Linked DNA regions of Homo sapiens. The protein of the gene in region 1 interacts with the protein of each later gene in a biochemical or structural test. Each region holds a gene or a part of one and is shown on either strand. Other genes may lie near its edges.

The links. The genes of interacting proteins can lie anywhere in the genome.
Region 2: the proteins of LGALS3BP (region 1) and LGALS3 form a complex in vitro, tested with the Homo sapiens proteins (4 studies listed by BioGRID).

The regions. Positions count from the first base shown.
Region 1 is NC_000017.11:78,978,096-78,981,840, forward strand, and holds the start of LGALS3BP (galectin-3-binding protein precursor), read right to left. Parts: upstream 1,829-3,745; 5' UTR 1,729-1,828; intron 1-1,728.
Region 2 is NC_000014.9:55,127,307-55,131,051, forward strand, and holds the start of LGALS3 (galectin-3), read left to right. Parts: upstream 1-1,945; 5' UTR 1,946-1,994; intron 1,995-3,745. UniProt on the Homo sapiens protein: Galactose-specific lectin which binds IgE. May mediate with the alpha-3, beta-1 integrin the stimulation by CSPG4 of endothelial cells migration.

The DNA of each region.
Region 1 (3,745 bases):
GTTCAGCAAGCCTGGGGCAGGCCTCTGGGTGGCACTGCTGTGGGCACCGGCTGGGAGTCTGGGCCTGGTGACCTTGAGGCTGCTTGGAGGGGGCCTGGTGGACGGCTGCAATGGCATCCCCAGAGCTTGTCGGAAATGCAGTCATGGCTGGCCTTGCCCTAGCCCCTCTGCATGGGAGTCTGCATGAACAAGCGCCCTGGGAGCTGGGTGCACTGGCTGGTGAGCAGCTTTGCTCTGGGACTCGTGCTCGCTGGCACTGTGCAGCCACCCCTTGTCGGGGCTCCCCGGGCACCACTGGAGGCCTTACCGTGACCCTGAGAACCACCTTAGTTACACCTCACCTTACAAGTGAATGAGCTGACACCCAGAGAGGCAAATGGGCTCCACATCCACAGTCAGTGAGCCACAGGCAGGGGGTCTGCTCGGGGGAGCCCACCTCTCCTCCCTGTGTCAATGTCAGTAGATGGCTAAAGGGGCCAGGGTGTGACCGCCTGTCCTGTGTGCTGGGGACTGTGCTGGTTTTAGCACTGAAGTTTCCCTGTGTCCTGGGAAACCCCTCAGTCCCAGGCACGCCGGTATGGGTGGACGCCCTCTCCACTTCTGCCCCCAGCCACTTCACTCTGCTGCAGCCACTAGGTTTGTCCGTCCTGGGAGAGTAACTCAGGGCCTTGGAAAAATGGCCAACTGGCCAGGCGCGATGGCTCACGCCTGTAATCCCAGAACTTTGGGAGGCTGGGGCAGGTGGATCACTTGAGGTCAGGAGTTCAAGACCAGCCTGGCCAACATGGTGAAACCCCGGCTCTACTAAAAATACAAAATAATAATAATAATAAGCTGGGCATGGTGGTGTGCACCTGTAGTCCCAGCTACTCAGGAGGCTGAGGCAACAGAATTGCTTGAATCCGGCAGGCAGAGATTGTAGTGAGCCGCTGCACTCCAGCCTGGGTGACAGAGCAAGACTCTGTCTCAAAAAAAAAAGGGGGGGGGGCAACGAAGCACCTGGCAGGTGGCGTCGCTGCCCTTTGTGTGGCAGCGGCTATTTTTGCCTGATTCCTTCATACAGTTGAGACCCGGCTGCCTGTGTTGGCCCCTTCGTGCAAATCAGAAAAAAAGGTGCTCTTCCTTGGAGTGGGTGCAGGCCTAGGCCAAATGCACAGGTCTGAGAGAGGGCCAAGCTGAATTCTAACCCACTTGCCCTTTGGCTGGTATCCTTGTGCAGTGAGTAATCTGCCCAACTGTACACAGAGGCCCTGTGGGCCTGGGAGCAGCAATGATTGTTGCTGGACTCAGGAGCCCTGGATCCCCAGCTCCAGGCCTATGTGCAAACAGGGAGGCATGACCCCCACTTGCCTGTGTAGAGAGAGGGGTGCCCTGGCCGGGCGCGGTGGCTCACACCTGTAATCCCTACACTTTGGGAGGCCGAGGCGGGTGGATCACCAGAGGTCAGGAGTTTGAGACCAGCCTGGCCAAGATGGCGAAACCCTGTCTCTACTAAAAATACAAAAATTAGCTGGGCGTGGTGGCACGCGCCTGTAATCCCAGCTACTTGGGAGGCCGAGGCAGGAGAATCGTTTGAACCCAGGAGGCAGAGGCTGCAGTGAGCGGACATTGCATCACTGTACTCCAGCCTGGGTGACAGAGTGAGACCCTGTCTCAAAAAAAATAAAAATAAAAAAGAGAGAGAGACTGAGAGGGGTGCCCACCTGAGAGCTAGAGGCAGGAGCTTACCTGGCTGCGGTAGCTGCAACGGCCGTGTGGAGCCTCCTCGCTTCCAGCCACAGGATCCCTCTGCAGACTGGTCCTTTGACCCAGAAGCCTCTCCCAGTATGGAGCGTGGTCAGGCTGATCCCAGGAAATGCTTCAGAAAAGAGTCTACTTTCGATTTCCAGAAACCACCTGACATAGATGTCTTCCGGGATTGGCTGCTGCTGATACTCCCCAGGGCCCCTCTCTTTTGTCTCAGCTCTGCCTGTGGCTATCAGTGCCAGGCTGGCAGAGGCCCAAGGTGGGAGTCTGGCTGGAGCAAGGCCTGCAAGAGGACTAACAGCCACACTCAGTTGGAAAGGCCGCCAGGCTGGTCAGGGGCTGGCGTTTGGTGGACGGGAGGGGAAGAAGCAGAGGCTCTGGGCCCAGACAGTCTGCACCTGGTGGTGTGGCTGTGGACTCTGACAGAGCGCTCCGAGTCTTTTCCTGGGTCTAGCACGTTGCTGGCTGGGTGAACACCACACAGGGGGCTGCTTATGTGCAAATCCACCCTCTCTGTGCTCTTGGCATGCTGACCACACAGAGGGCCTGTGCCCCACAAGGTTGCATGGCACTGTCCCCTGTCCCCAGGGGAGGGAGGCACTGAGAACCAGGTATGCAGCTGGCCAGTGGAGGAGCTGGACCCTGCTCCAACACCTGACCCCAGAGCCTGTGCTCGCCACTGCTGGACCTGTGGCCACTCTCCTACTGTCTCCCCCTCAGCGGGGCGGGGGACAGAGCCTCTCTGGGTGACATAATGGCTCTGTCCAGCTCATACCCATTCCCTTTCCTCCCACTGAAAGCCGGCACCTCAACTGTCCCTTGGGGAGCACCCCCTCCCATTCCCGGCTGTGTGGTTCCCAGAGGGCCCCCAGCTCTTGGCCTTCAACCACCCAAGGCCTGGCTGTCTGAGCCCTGCGGGGGCCCCGGGCCACACTGCTGGTTTCAGGGTGGGGCTGTGAGCCCAGCCAGCCGGTGAGAGCCAGCTTCTGACTGAGAGGATGTGGGCCCAGGCTGCTGGGGCCGGTGGGGCAGAGCAGAGGGAAGCAGGCATCCTCCGGCCTGAGCTCCTGGGTCCAGCTGGCCTAATCCATGGTCAAGGCTGGGCTTCACCGCTCAGTGAGGCAATCAGCAGCCGCTCTTGTTTCTGTCACTTGCACCCCATGGTTCTGGATGAGCCTTGGGATGTGCCCAGGCCTCTGACCAGTGGTTCTCAGCCTGGGCTGGACAGAAGAATCATCAGGGAGTTTTACAAACTCCTAATGCCTAGACCCAGGAAGTCACCATCTCTGGGAGTAGGGGACAGGCAGGGGCATTTAAAAGCCCCCAGGCAGTCCCACTGGGTGGAAGGCCCTGGTTCCCTGGCAGCTTAGAGTCCGAGACAGCCAGCCCAGAGGTCAGACATTCAATGACTATTTCCTTCAAGGTGTGAGGTTTTAGGCAGCTGCACGGTTTGCCTAATCCCCTCCAGAGGAACTGTGAAGATCCAGGGGCAGGTGCAGCTGGAAATAGAACTGGCTGTGGGGAGTTTAAAAAAATCTCATCTGGATTAAGGGCCTGAGTGCACAGAAACCCCAGCATCATCCCTTCTCAGCAGTGCTAATGACTTCTGCCCAAGTGGCCAGGGAAGGACAGGAGTGCAGAGGACGGGAGGGCATCTCTGGGAAGTGCTGGGAAAGGTTTTAAAACTCAGGTGCCGAATCTTTAGCCCCAGAGTCCGGGAAAGTCCTAAGCCATCCAGGCAGGTAAAATGGAAAACCCAGAGGCCTCCTCGTGGAATCGGAGCACCAACATCTGCTCCCCTGGGGCTCGCAAGGCCTTTCCGGTGTGCGATGACCATGGGGTGGAGGGAAGCGCTGACAGGGGACAGGCAGGGGAAGGGGCAGCGGCTCGGCTCTGAGAAGACAGCTGGGTGAAAGCCTCAGATTCGTGTGGACAGAACTGCTGTCATCAGGAAGCCGCTCCCAAGACATGGTAGGGAAAGTGCGGGGCATTTCAGAGA
Region 2 (3,745 bases), on another chromosome or scaffold:
TTAGAAAAGGGATGTGACTTTGGATTGGGTAATAAAGAGCCGTTTATTGCATGTGTACAAATTATAAATTCCCAGGCACACCCTGATCATAGCAGGATCCTTTTGTTAGCTTTATGGGGCATGAAGTTGGCACCAAAGTATTCATGGGGATGTACAAGTAAGGAAGGGAAGCCAAAAGCATGTCTGATCATACAATCAGGTGTAAGCAAGCCCCCTAAGTAGCCAGGGCATGAACTTTGTCTATCTCTGAAATGACCAGAAGAAAAGGCAAGAGTGTGATTCATCCCTTGCCTCCACAGCAATTCATTTGGCTATCTACTTTTCTTATTACCAATGGCTAACCCTCTAAGGGTACCACTCCTGGCCATGAGGCCTCATGACTCAAAGTCTTAAGATTTATAGCATTTTCCCTGGAGACCAAGGGCATTCCTTTGGGTGATACCTTTTTACTACCCAGAGGTTAGTCATTTACTATGGGTGATCCATTCAAATAAATTGGTTGCCAGGCTACCTCTTCAGATAAGAGTTCAAACTTGCATAAATAATCCCCAGCCACACTGTGACTTCTATGTGCAAGCCTAGAGGGGACGATGTTGCAGGAACCGTGCCAACCACTAAGACACTTTCAAGTTTATCCTAGAGAATGCCAAGACAGCTTCTCAATTCCATCAAGTGAGTCCTTCACAGGAACATTTCCCTAAGTTGAAAAACTGCAGGAAATAATTTATCTTTATGTTATTAATTGGTTACTATAAGGGCTACAGGAATTATTTAGGAACCAGATGATACCTGGTTTTCTCCATAGTTTACATAAGCCAGTCCCTGCAAAGATTCTTCCCCTACCCCCCTTAATTTTTTTTTTTTTCCTCAGAGATCCTTGTTCCAACCTGCAAGGATTCTTTGGCCTGGTGCTTTTCCAGGTAAAGTGTAAGAGCCAGGATTTCTGGATTTTGTTCCTAGACATGAGTGAGCTTGGATAAGTAAATCATTTTCTCTTTTAGTCTGTTTGGGCTTCTGTAACAAAATATCATAAACTGGGTAGCTTATAGGCAATATACATTTATTTCCCACAGTTCTGAAGGTCGGGAAATCCAAGATCCAGGCCAGCAGATTTGATGTCTGGTGAGGGCCTGCTTTCTGGTTCACAGAGGGAGCCTTCTGGCTGTGTCTTCACAAGGTGGAAGTGGCAAGGGGTCTCTCTCCGGCCTCTTTTATTAGGGCACCAATCTCATTCATAAGGACCCTGCCCCTATGACCTAATCACTTCCCAAGGCCTCCACTTCCTAATACATCACCGTGAGGGTTAGGATTTCAACATATGAACTTTGGCGGGATATAAACATTCAGACTATAGCACCCTGACAGTAAAAATGAGATAATAATACTTATCTCTTTCTTCCAACAAAAAGATAAGGTGAAGTTAAAAGGAGGGTATATATATATATAATGTGAATTTCCTGTGTAAAATGTGTTAAAGAGTTGTCTGATTAATTGCTTTATAAGGGAATTGCTTTGAGACTAGGCCTATTGATCTAGAATAAGTAGTCAATTTGTAGTCAGTTCCCTAGGGAATAGACATTGAAAAGATTTTTGGTTTTGTATTCTACAAATAAAGCAACCTATTAATTGAATTCCTCTCAGCGAATTCTTCACTCAGGTGATTCTGGAGAGGGCGGGGGACAGACGCGGCCGCAGCCCAGGTCCCGGGAGCGCCACGGAACCTAACGGTGGCAGCGGAGGTCGCGCCCCTCAGTGCCCGCGCTCTCCCCGTCGGGAGCTTCCTGGTCGCCCCTGCGGCGGCGGCTCGGGGTGTCTGGCCGGCGCGGGGCTCGCCCAGCCTGGTCCGGGGAGAGGACTGGCTGGGCAGGGGCGCCGCCCCGCCTCGGGAGAGGCGGGCCGGGCGGGGCTGGGAGTATTTGAGGCTCGGAGCCACCGCCCCGCCGGCGCCCGCAGCACCTCCTCGCCAGCAGCCGTCCGGAGCCAGCCAACGAGCGGTGAGCTGCGCGGGGCGCGGGGGACGCGGCTCCGGCCGGGCAGGGGAGAGGGCGCCCGGGCGCTGCTTGGGGCGCGGTCCGGAGAGGGTTCGGCTCCCCGGGACCGGGCCGGGGCGCGCGCGGAGAGCCCCACAGCCTGTGCTCTGCCCTCCAGGAGCGGGGCGGCGGGCAGCGATCTGGGCCCGGGGCAGTCGCCTTTGATTATCGAGGGCGCTGGCGTTCGGGGAAGGTTGGCAGCACCTTACGAGACCCACACACGTCCCCGGGGCGGCACGGGCCACCTTCTGCGGAGCCTCGTGGGCTTCGCCGCCGTCGCACCTCCGCCGCCTGCGCTCTGCGGCCCCAGAGTAAGCCCCATCCGGTGACGAGCCGCAGTCTGGTCACCCCAGTCCCACCAGGTCCCGCTGCGAGGGGAGGCGGAGGGGCTCGCTCAGCAAACCAGACGGCCGCTCCAGTTTCTCTAATTGGGGTTGGAGCCCCGTCACCCTTCCCCAGATCACGGCCGCGGGGGAGCGAAGGGACTTCCCAGGACTGCATAGGGCGCCTCCCGGGACCCACAGCTTGGCTGGCCCGGCCCCTTTTGAGCATCAGCTGAGGCTGGACTTGGAGGAGATCTCGCTGTGGAGCGCGAATGAGTTCTTCCACCGGGACCAGCTGCGGCCGGGCTGCAGCCGCTGTCTGGTTGCTGATCCCACAGAAAATGGTGCTTGCCCCATGGCCTGAGTGGGCATGACCCGGCTTTGCAAAGACTGCAAACTCTAAGCTTTTCCGAATCAAATGCCCCTCCCTGCCCAGACTGTCTGTGCCCAGGAAATGGTGGGTGTGGCAAAATGTTGGTCCTAGCGTGCAGAGCCCTACCGGGGGGCTTTCACAACATGTTTGAGAGTTTATTCTGAATTATCGGGTGCTCAAATAGAAACACTAAAACGATTGCCCTCTGAGCAGTAGGCGTTCAGGTCCAGGGAGTCGGGGACGCATGGTGGAGGCTGGGACTTAGGTTTCAGCCTTACCCTTCAAGTTCGCCATGCGGGTTCCAGAGACTGCGGAATGTTTGTAAAGTGACTCTGGGAATTGGGTTGCTGCGCAATGAGGACACCTGGACCTCAGTGACTCAGGCTGTCTCTAGGATTCTGGGGAAGAAATGGGAGAAGGCTCAGTTAATTCTGAAGAAAATGAGACTGATACAATTAACTACTTGGGCACAGGGCCTGAGAAGAAAAAGCTTTCGTCAGCTTCCAAAGTTCTGATTTGTTTACCTAAGGTTTTTTTTTTTTTTGAGACGCAGTTTCGCTCTTGTTGCCCAGGCTGGAGTGCAACGGCACTATCTCGGCTCACCGCAACCTCTGCCTACCGGGTTCAAGCGATTCTCCTGCCTCAGCCTCCCGAGTAGCTGGGATTACAGGCATGCGCCACCATGCCCGGCTAATTTTGTATTTTTCGTGGTGGTGGTGGTGGGGGGGGGGGGGTCCCTCCATGTTGGTCAGGCTGGTCTCGAACCCCCGACCTCAGGTGACCCGCCTGCCTCGGCCTCCTAAAGTGCTGGGATTATAGGCGTGGGCCACTGCGCCTGGCCTACCTCAAGTTTATAAACATTTCATACTAGGAAATTGTGTGTTTCCATAAAAGGTAAAGTTGAATAATGATCATTTACTTTTCTACAACAATAGTCTCCCTTTTAGACATTGACTCTCAATCCTTAGGGTAGGGTCTCTCATTCTAAAGATGATCATACCCCATCCTTGATCTTTGGG